Homo sapiens: one gene and its partner. The protein of the gene in region 1 purifies or fractionates together with the protein of each later gene. This does not show direct contact. Each region holds a gene or a part of one and is shown on either strand. Other genes may lie near its edges.

Region 1 (3,829 bases):
GAGTAATTGCTGTAGCTCAGAAGCACGTCTTCTGGTGAAATACATTTATACCCATTAACTAGACTTTGCTTTTAATACTTTAATTTATTCTGTCTTAACTATTTTATTTTACGTCTTTCTTCTCCACAGGTAATCAATTGTTTCCCCAAACAATGGTTCATGAATCTGAAAGGAGAAAGGACTATTTCTCAGTTAGAAAACTTTTGCCGATACCTTGTACACTTAGCGGATACAATTTATAGAAATAGTATCGGGTGTTCTGATGTGGAAAAAAGAAATGCAAGGTAATTTTGTAATTAATGAAATGGTAATCTAGAGTTGTTTAGTTGCCAGATTTAGTATTAAAATGTTTTAAGTAGAGATGTTTATATTTTAGTTTAAATTGTATGTTCACTTAGTATTATAAACCTACCAAAAATGCACATAATTTTTCATTTTAGCAGTTTTTACTTTTTTTCAGTATGTTATTTATGAAGATACTAAGGAAAGACTTCTGGTAAGGACCAACCCTCAGGGGAGTGAGTAAACGGTTGTTTTCTCTGTCTCCCTCTTTGAAGAATTAGAGAGGTCTCAGACTCTCTTGTTTGGAGTTTCATTATGCAGATTTAAATTCAAGTTTATCTCCCAATTTGGGGAGATTTTTTGTTTTAATCAATATTATGAACTAGAGGTTATCACTCATGGCTTTTTGGGGCAACTTATTTCTAATTTTTATCAAGGGTTGTAAGAAAAGAGTGAGTGAACCATTAGCCTTTCTGTGGACATTAATTTATGGGTGTTCAGGTAATTCTGGGATAAATCTCTAGCATAAAAAGTAAATAATAACACTAAGTAGGGCAGTTTGAAGGAATTGTCTTTTTAAAATTTTAATTTCATATATCTTCATAATGTCAAAGTCTAATTTTTGTTTAGATCACACCATTAGTCATACCCCTATAACAAAACCTTCTTCTGATCCCTCATTCCCCTTTCTTGAAAAAGGACCTATTTTCCTGCAAGAAAATTGGATATTTTTTCCACAATAAAATTAAAGTAGCTATTAAAGATTTTAGGCCAGGCATGGTGGCTCATGCCTGTAATCCCAGTACTTTGGGAGGCTGAGGCAGGTGGATCATGAGGTCAGGAGATGGAGACCATCCTGGCCAACATGGTGAAACCCTGTTTCTACTAAAAATACAAAAATTAGCTGGGTGTGGTGGTGCGTGCCTATAGTCCCACCTACTCGGGAGGCTGAGGCAGGGGAATTGCTTGAACCTGGGAGGCAGAGGTTGCAGTGAGCTGAGATTGCGCCACTGCATTCCAGCCTGGTGAAAGACCAACACTCCGTCTCAAAAAACAACAACAAAAAAGATTTTAATGGTAAAATTCTTTGGCAGGTTTTGGCTGATTTGATTTTGTTCTTAGTGTGTGCCATTTTGTTATTTGTTGGCACTAATATTTTTTTCTCTGTGTTTTCTACTAGATAAATTTTATCACATTTTAAACTTTGATTTACATATATTTAACAGTGTTTCTGTTTGGAAGTTAAATATCAACAAATAGTGTTTACTTTTCTACAGAAAAGAACTTTAACAGCTATGTAAGCACCTGCTTTGTGCAGTGCACATAAAGCAGGTTTCATGTGGGTTGGAAAGTTTTGCAAATTCTAATTCTTCCCTAATAGGTGCTTACTACAATTCTGTAGAAGAGATGAGACAATTACTAATGTCATATTATGTCTTGTTTCTCGTGAGTGGTTTAAGCTAAATGTTAAAACAGTCATTCTTAAAGTGTGGTCCCTGGACCAGCAGTATCAGCATGGCATGGGAGTCTGATAGACTTGCAAGTTCTCGGGGCCCCACTCTGGGCCTCTTGAATAGAACTCTTGGGGTGGGGCCAGGGATGATCTGCATTTCAACAATCCTCTAGGTAATTCTAATGTGTGCTAAAATTTGAGGATTACTTCCTAGTAAGAAAGCAGAATGACTTCTAGCTGGAGTGATAAGGAAAGTCAGATTATACTTTATTTAGTGAATTTTGGTGGAGTGGAAATTATGCTGGATCTTGACAGATTGGTGATGAAGAGACACAAATAACGATTTGTGTTCCAGGTATACGCTAAAACAGCCAGGACTCTGGTTTGGGAAGGAATGGGAGACAGGCCTCTGAAGTAGTTTGAAAACAGATTGCTTTCTTTTCTTTCTCAATATTAATGAAACTCATTGATCTCAATGAATTTTGTTTTGCTTTTTTAAAATGGGTCCCCTGTCTCTGGGCTAGTCATTTAAACATATGTAAGTTTTGTTCTATATGGATAAATGTAAACTTTTTTTTTTTTAACATGCTGTAGCTTGCATATCTGTTTCCTTTCTTTGAAAATGTGTGCTTGGAAAAATTGATTGCAGAAGCTCTAAAATAGCCATGAAATCAGTAGCAAATTTTCTCTTAGATATACTAATTAATGAGATGCTGCTATATTTTTTTCTTTTAGGGAAAACATAAAACAGATAGTAAAACTCCTTGCAAGTGTTCGAGCTTTGGATCATGCTATGTCTGTTGCAAGTGACCACAATGTGAAAGAATTTAAGTCTTTGATCGAAGGAAAATAGATCTATGAGACTGAAAAACCTATTTGCTTGATTACCATTCCCAATGTGTAAATTTTGTATATATGTAAAGTTTCTTAAACTGTAAAATAGCAATTCTTGTTTTAATACAAAAAACATTATATTCAATACTGTGTCCTTAAATGATATTTCTTCAGAATGAAAGGAATTCAGATTATTTCTAGGAGTCTATGAATGTTTTCTTTACTGCCTGTCATACTTTGTTTACTGAAGTATTTTGTATGGTCATTTAAATTAACCCTCTCAGTTAATTGTCCCCTGTAAACGATGTGTGCAGTGTAAATTGTGTAATTATGCATATATATATTTATACCACCATGGACTTACTTTCACACTGGAAATTTGTGGTGTTTTTCCACAGAGGAAGCCTTTTAACAGCAGAAAATTATCCGGTAGCAAATTGTCTTAGGGAAATTACTACACTGTTGTAACAAAAGGGCTGGCAAGTGACTAAATGTTCATTACCTTTTGGTTAGCGTTGCTATCACTGTAGCTGTGCTGCCTTAACATTGAGAGTTGAGTTGTGGACTTAGTCATTGAGTGAATGTTGAACTTTCTTCCTTGAATCAGCGTTAGAGTCAAATGTGGGTTTAATGTGAATGCTAAATGAATATGCAACATAGTTTCAAATGGAACATAGAAATTTCACTTTTGAAAATAATAAACCCACAACCTAATTGCATGGTTTTGGGCTGACCGTCCTGTCTCATTCATGATTTTACTCCCTGCCCAGCTTGCAGATACATGCATTTGAATTTTAGTAGTCTGTCATATTTAAAATCCCACATATGTGAGTTAAATATGCAATAAAGAATACGCCTTGCTGATTAGCCACACCCAGGCAATTTAATATCCATGGTCTTCTATAATGTTTATACCACATTGTAAATATTCAGAGAACTTGTTTTAAAGTTTATGCTTTCTGATTCTGTGATTTTCAAAAGAGGAATTTTTTTGGAAATTAAGGACTATCGTTTGATAATTATATATGTAATTAAGATTTAGCCAAGCATTAAATTAATTTTTAAATATATCCTTTGTTGTATTTTCCTGACGACTAAATTTGCAGCATTTCAAATGACTCTAATAAAGTGGGACTGTGAGCAGGCCCATGTGTACCCTTGATCAGGACATAATATGCAGAACAGTGTCATGCACTGTATTTGCTCTGTTAATTTTATCTTATCCCTACATATTTGTATTAGTTCATTCTCACGCTGTTA
Region 2 (3,829 bases), on another chromosome or scaffold:
TTTGAATGAAATTCACTTTTTAAACTGTTTGGTTTCCCTTCAAATCCCCCAGATGTGCTGCAATCCTCAGTATCCAAGTATCTTAATTACCCCTCTAAAAGTTAAATATTAATCCAAATAATCACAAACCTCATCTTGAGTTGACCTGACCTCCTTCTACACTAACCATTAATAAACTCATCTCTGAAATGAGGCTACCCATAATCAGACCACAGAATAGCAGTATGAAATATAAAACTTTAGATATAAAGACAAAAGGTACAAAGTTTTAAATATTGAGCCCACCAAAATCCATAATCCATGTAACCCAGGACAATCCACTAAACCTAAGTTTCTCATAAACTTAAACCTCATTTTGCTCATCTGTAAAGTGGTGATGAATATCTTCCTGCAGGGTTATAGAAAAACGTAAATGAGCTAATACATGTAAAGTATACAGTGTCTGGCTTTACCCAAATATCAATTAAATAGTAAGTTCAGAGTTACAGTCTTTCTTGTAGTTTGAAAATTCTTAAAATTTCCGTAAGGTGATTTTTGAATACCCTAACATCAATTCTAAGTTTTCCTTCATTAAAAAAGAAAAATTGGCAAGGCTAAGGCAGGAGGATTGCTTTAGCTCAGGAGTTCAAAACCTCAACTCTACAAAAATTTTATTTAAAAATTAGCCAGGCACTGGTGGCATATGCCTGTGATCCCAGCTACTTGGGAGGCTGAGGCAGGAGGATCGCTTCAGCTCAGGAGGTTGACGCTGTGTTCATACCACTGCACTCCAGCATGGGTGAAAGACTGTCTCAACAACAACACAAAAATTAAAAAAAAAAAAAAGAAAAGAAAAGAAGAATGGTACTAAGGCTCAGTCTATAATAAAAGCTTCCTATTTTGGTTGCTACAGTACCTTCAAAATGTCTCCATGCACATGTAACTTTAGAAAAAGATAAATTGTGTATGCGGTATGTTCAATCTCTGCATGGTAAGACAGGTAATTCACTTCAATACTTTCCTGAATTTTTCAAAGTTTCTACAATGATCAGGGACTGCTACTTTTGAAACCAGAAATTTTTAATTGATGGTTCAGGCTTAAGTGTATAAAGACAGTTACTTCTCACCCACAGCAAGAAAATGCAAATTAAAAAGTACATTAGAATGCAATTTTTCACCTATTGGATTTGTAAAAATTCACGTTTTAATAGTTTCCCACGTGTTCTCCTACATGCTCATGGAAAGGTAAATTGATACGCTCCCTCTGGAAGGCTATCCAGCTTTCTGTATCACAATTACAAATGATCTTCTGACCCAGCAATTTCTGCTTCCTACAGAAACACTTGACCCATGCAAAACAACCATGGGAAACAGTCTAAATGTCTATCAACAGGGGTCTAGTTAATAATAGCCCATCCATGTTTAAAAAATATCCTAGCTATATTACAAATAACACACTAGTAACAGTGTTTAGTTCTATGGGAGGGAGGACGACTAGATGGACAAAAGTCACCGGTATAGACTTTATATTACTTTGGCATTTCATTTTTTGCATGGTTCAAAATACCATATTAAATACAAACGACAAAAATCTACCCCAGTGATTTCTCCACCCAAGTACCAGAAAACAAACTGTGGGTCCCTAAATCTGTACTGTCCGGGAGTCAAAATACCTCTGCCATACATAAGGTAACAAAATTTGAAAAGCGAGCACCACTATTTTCCCCTAGATTCAGGGGAGAGGTATTCTCTATAGGATTTCCACTCTGAAATTCAGAGTGCCAATTAAACATCAAATCAGCTATTCTTCAAGATGTTCTATAGGACAGACAAGGGAAATGACCACCAGAATCAAATATGCAACATTTGGTAAACTTAAACATAAATGAAATATGTACCATGGTATACAATAACTCACCTGTGTTGTTTTACCAGACCCAGTCTCACCAACCAGTACAAAGGACTGATGTCTAACCAGAATATCTGTAAACCTATCCTTGTATTCCCAAACAGGGAGCTGAAGACGTTTCTTTAGAATATCATAGTATCGAGGAGTATGGGGTAAGTTGGTGAACGGATTAATGCACTGTGGAAGTGACGTGTGACCTGCATGTCCGGCATGCGTTGAATGAGCAGAATGTGTTGAATGCGTTGAATGTGCTGAGTGGGTTGAGTGAGCTGAATGGGAAGCTTTCAAAGGTGGTAATCCAGCACTGATAAGCATAGCATTTGTTGAAGCTCGCAACTCCTTCTCCTTTTCTTTCTCCCTCTCTCGCTCTCTATCTCCTCTATCACGTTCTCGGTCTCGATCTTTAGACCGATCTTCACGATCCCGGTCTCGATCTCGATCCTTCCTAAAAACAAAAATTTAGAATTCAGATTCTGAATTTTATGCAGAATGTTCACGGTAGCGTTATAATCACAAAGAGAGTAAATGTCCAACGTTCAAATGAATAAAAAGTCCAATGGATTATGTAACTATCAGAAATAATAAAAAATACCCTACAATCAAGGGTTTCCCATTCTCCACCACAAACATCTTTCCCTTCCTTGCTGATGCCCCACCTTCCTTAACTTTTAACATTAGGTGAGGTAACACAAGAACTCAGTCTGCTGCAAGTAAAACCCCTCCTACTTAGACAACAGAAATCAGATACTGAGGGTAGGATGAAGAAAGGATAGGTCCAAATTGAGTAAAAGAAGATGGCATCTCAATCTTTCTCAAATTCTCCTTCAATTTGTGAAGAGGTATTTTGTGCACTAAAAGTATATTCAGAAGTTAGCACAAACACTGCTACTGGAGATAAAGACAACTCCACCTCACATCATTACAGTCAACAGTGGTGGGTTTTGCTCAATACTTTTATAATCCACTTCTAATAAATTACTTTAATATTCCTTTCTTTGCCATAGGACGATGTTCGGTTGTAATGCAAAGTGAAAAGAGCATAGTACAATGTTATACCTGTCAATATCTCAACTAATACAAATACGAATTACAGGACTGCAGAATTTGTTTTCTTAGTTATACTTTCCAGCACTTTCCCAATTTTGTTCAGTAAATGTATATTGCTTTATTAAAAAAACTGAAATTAAAACTTTTATTCCTTCTTGCTTGTTTACTCTTGCATTTTAACCTAAACAGCAACAGCAAAACACTGAAAGCACTCTATAAATCTATGTACCTTGGTCTACCATAAAATGAAACATAGCCAAATTAAAAATAAGCTTTGCTAAACACTATTAAGTTGTTTAACATGTTAAAATTATGCAGGTAGCCACTCTATTAAACCTGGGTCAATTTTAAGTAGTCAATGCTGGTATCTACTTCCAGTTACTAGAGATTGACCTTAATAAGTCATTTTAAAAGTATCTATGCTAAGAACTTCACAAGCAGAATGGCTGCAGGTTGTTCATATGCGTTGTGGCTGAAAGCAGCCTCTGGGAGACTGGTGGTGGGAATAAAATAAAATAATCTATGCTTGTTCATTTTACTAATCCAGTTTACTTCAGACCAAGTCCATCAGCAGAGAAATTTGCCTCAAGATCTTTAAACCCAGACTTGAAATAATGAGACATGACGGAGCTATGACACAAGCCCCGAAACATGTCATTGTTCCTTACCCACAATACACAAAAGTACAAATTCCCTGTGCTCCAAGTGCAGTTGTGTGACATGTACAAATTTACTCAAAAAGGGGAAAAGCCATATATATGCATATATAAACATGAAAAGTGATTTTCCCCTCTTCCATCCCAATGTTCACCTTCTACAAAAATCACAGAGCATACAAGCCAGAACTGTATGAAGCCTCTCATTTCACCTGGCATAAACAGAAAGAAAATCAAT

The links.
Region 2: the proteins of PAXBP1 (region 1) and DHX15 purify together in Homo sapiens (co-immunoprecipitation; one study listed by IntAct). This does not show direct contact.

What each region holds. Positions count from the first base shown.
Region 1 is NC_000021.9:32,733,709-32,737,537, reverse strand, and holds the end of PAXBP1 (PAX3- and PAX7-binding protein 1), read left to right. Parts: intron 1-129; coding exon 130-284; intron 285-2,470; coding exon 2,471-2,588; 3' UTR 2,589-3,639; downstream 3,640-3,829. UniProt on the Homo sapiens protein: Adapter protein linking the transcription factors PAX3 and PAX7 to the histone methylation machinery and involved in myogenesis.
Region 2 is NC_000004.12:24,574,346-24,578,174, forward strand, and holds part of DHX15 (ATP-dependent RNA helicase DHX15), read right to left. Parts: intron 2,334-3,829; coding exon 1,898-2,333; intron 1-1,897.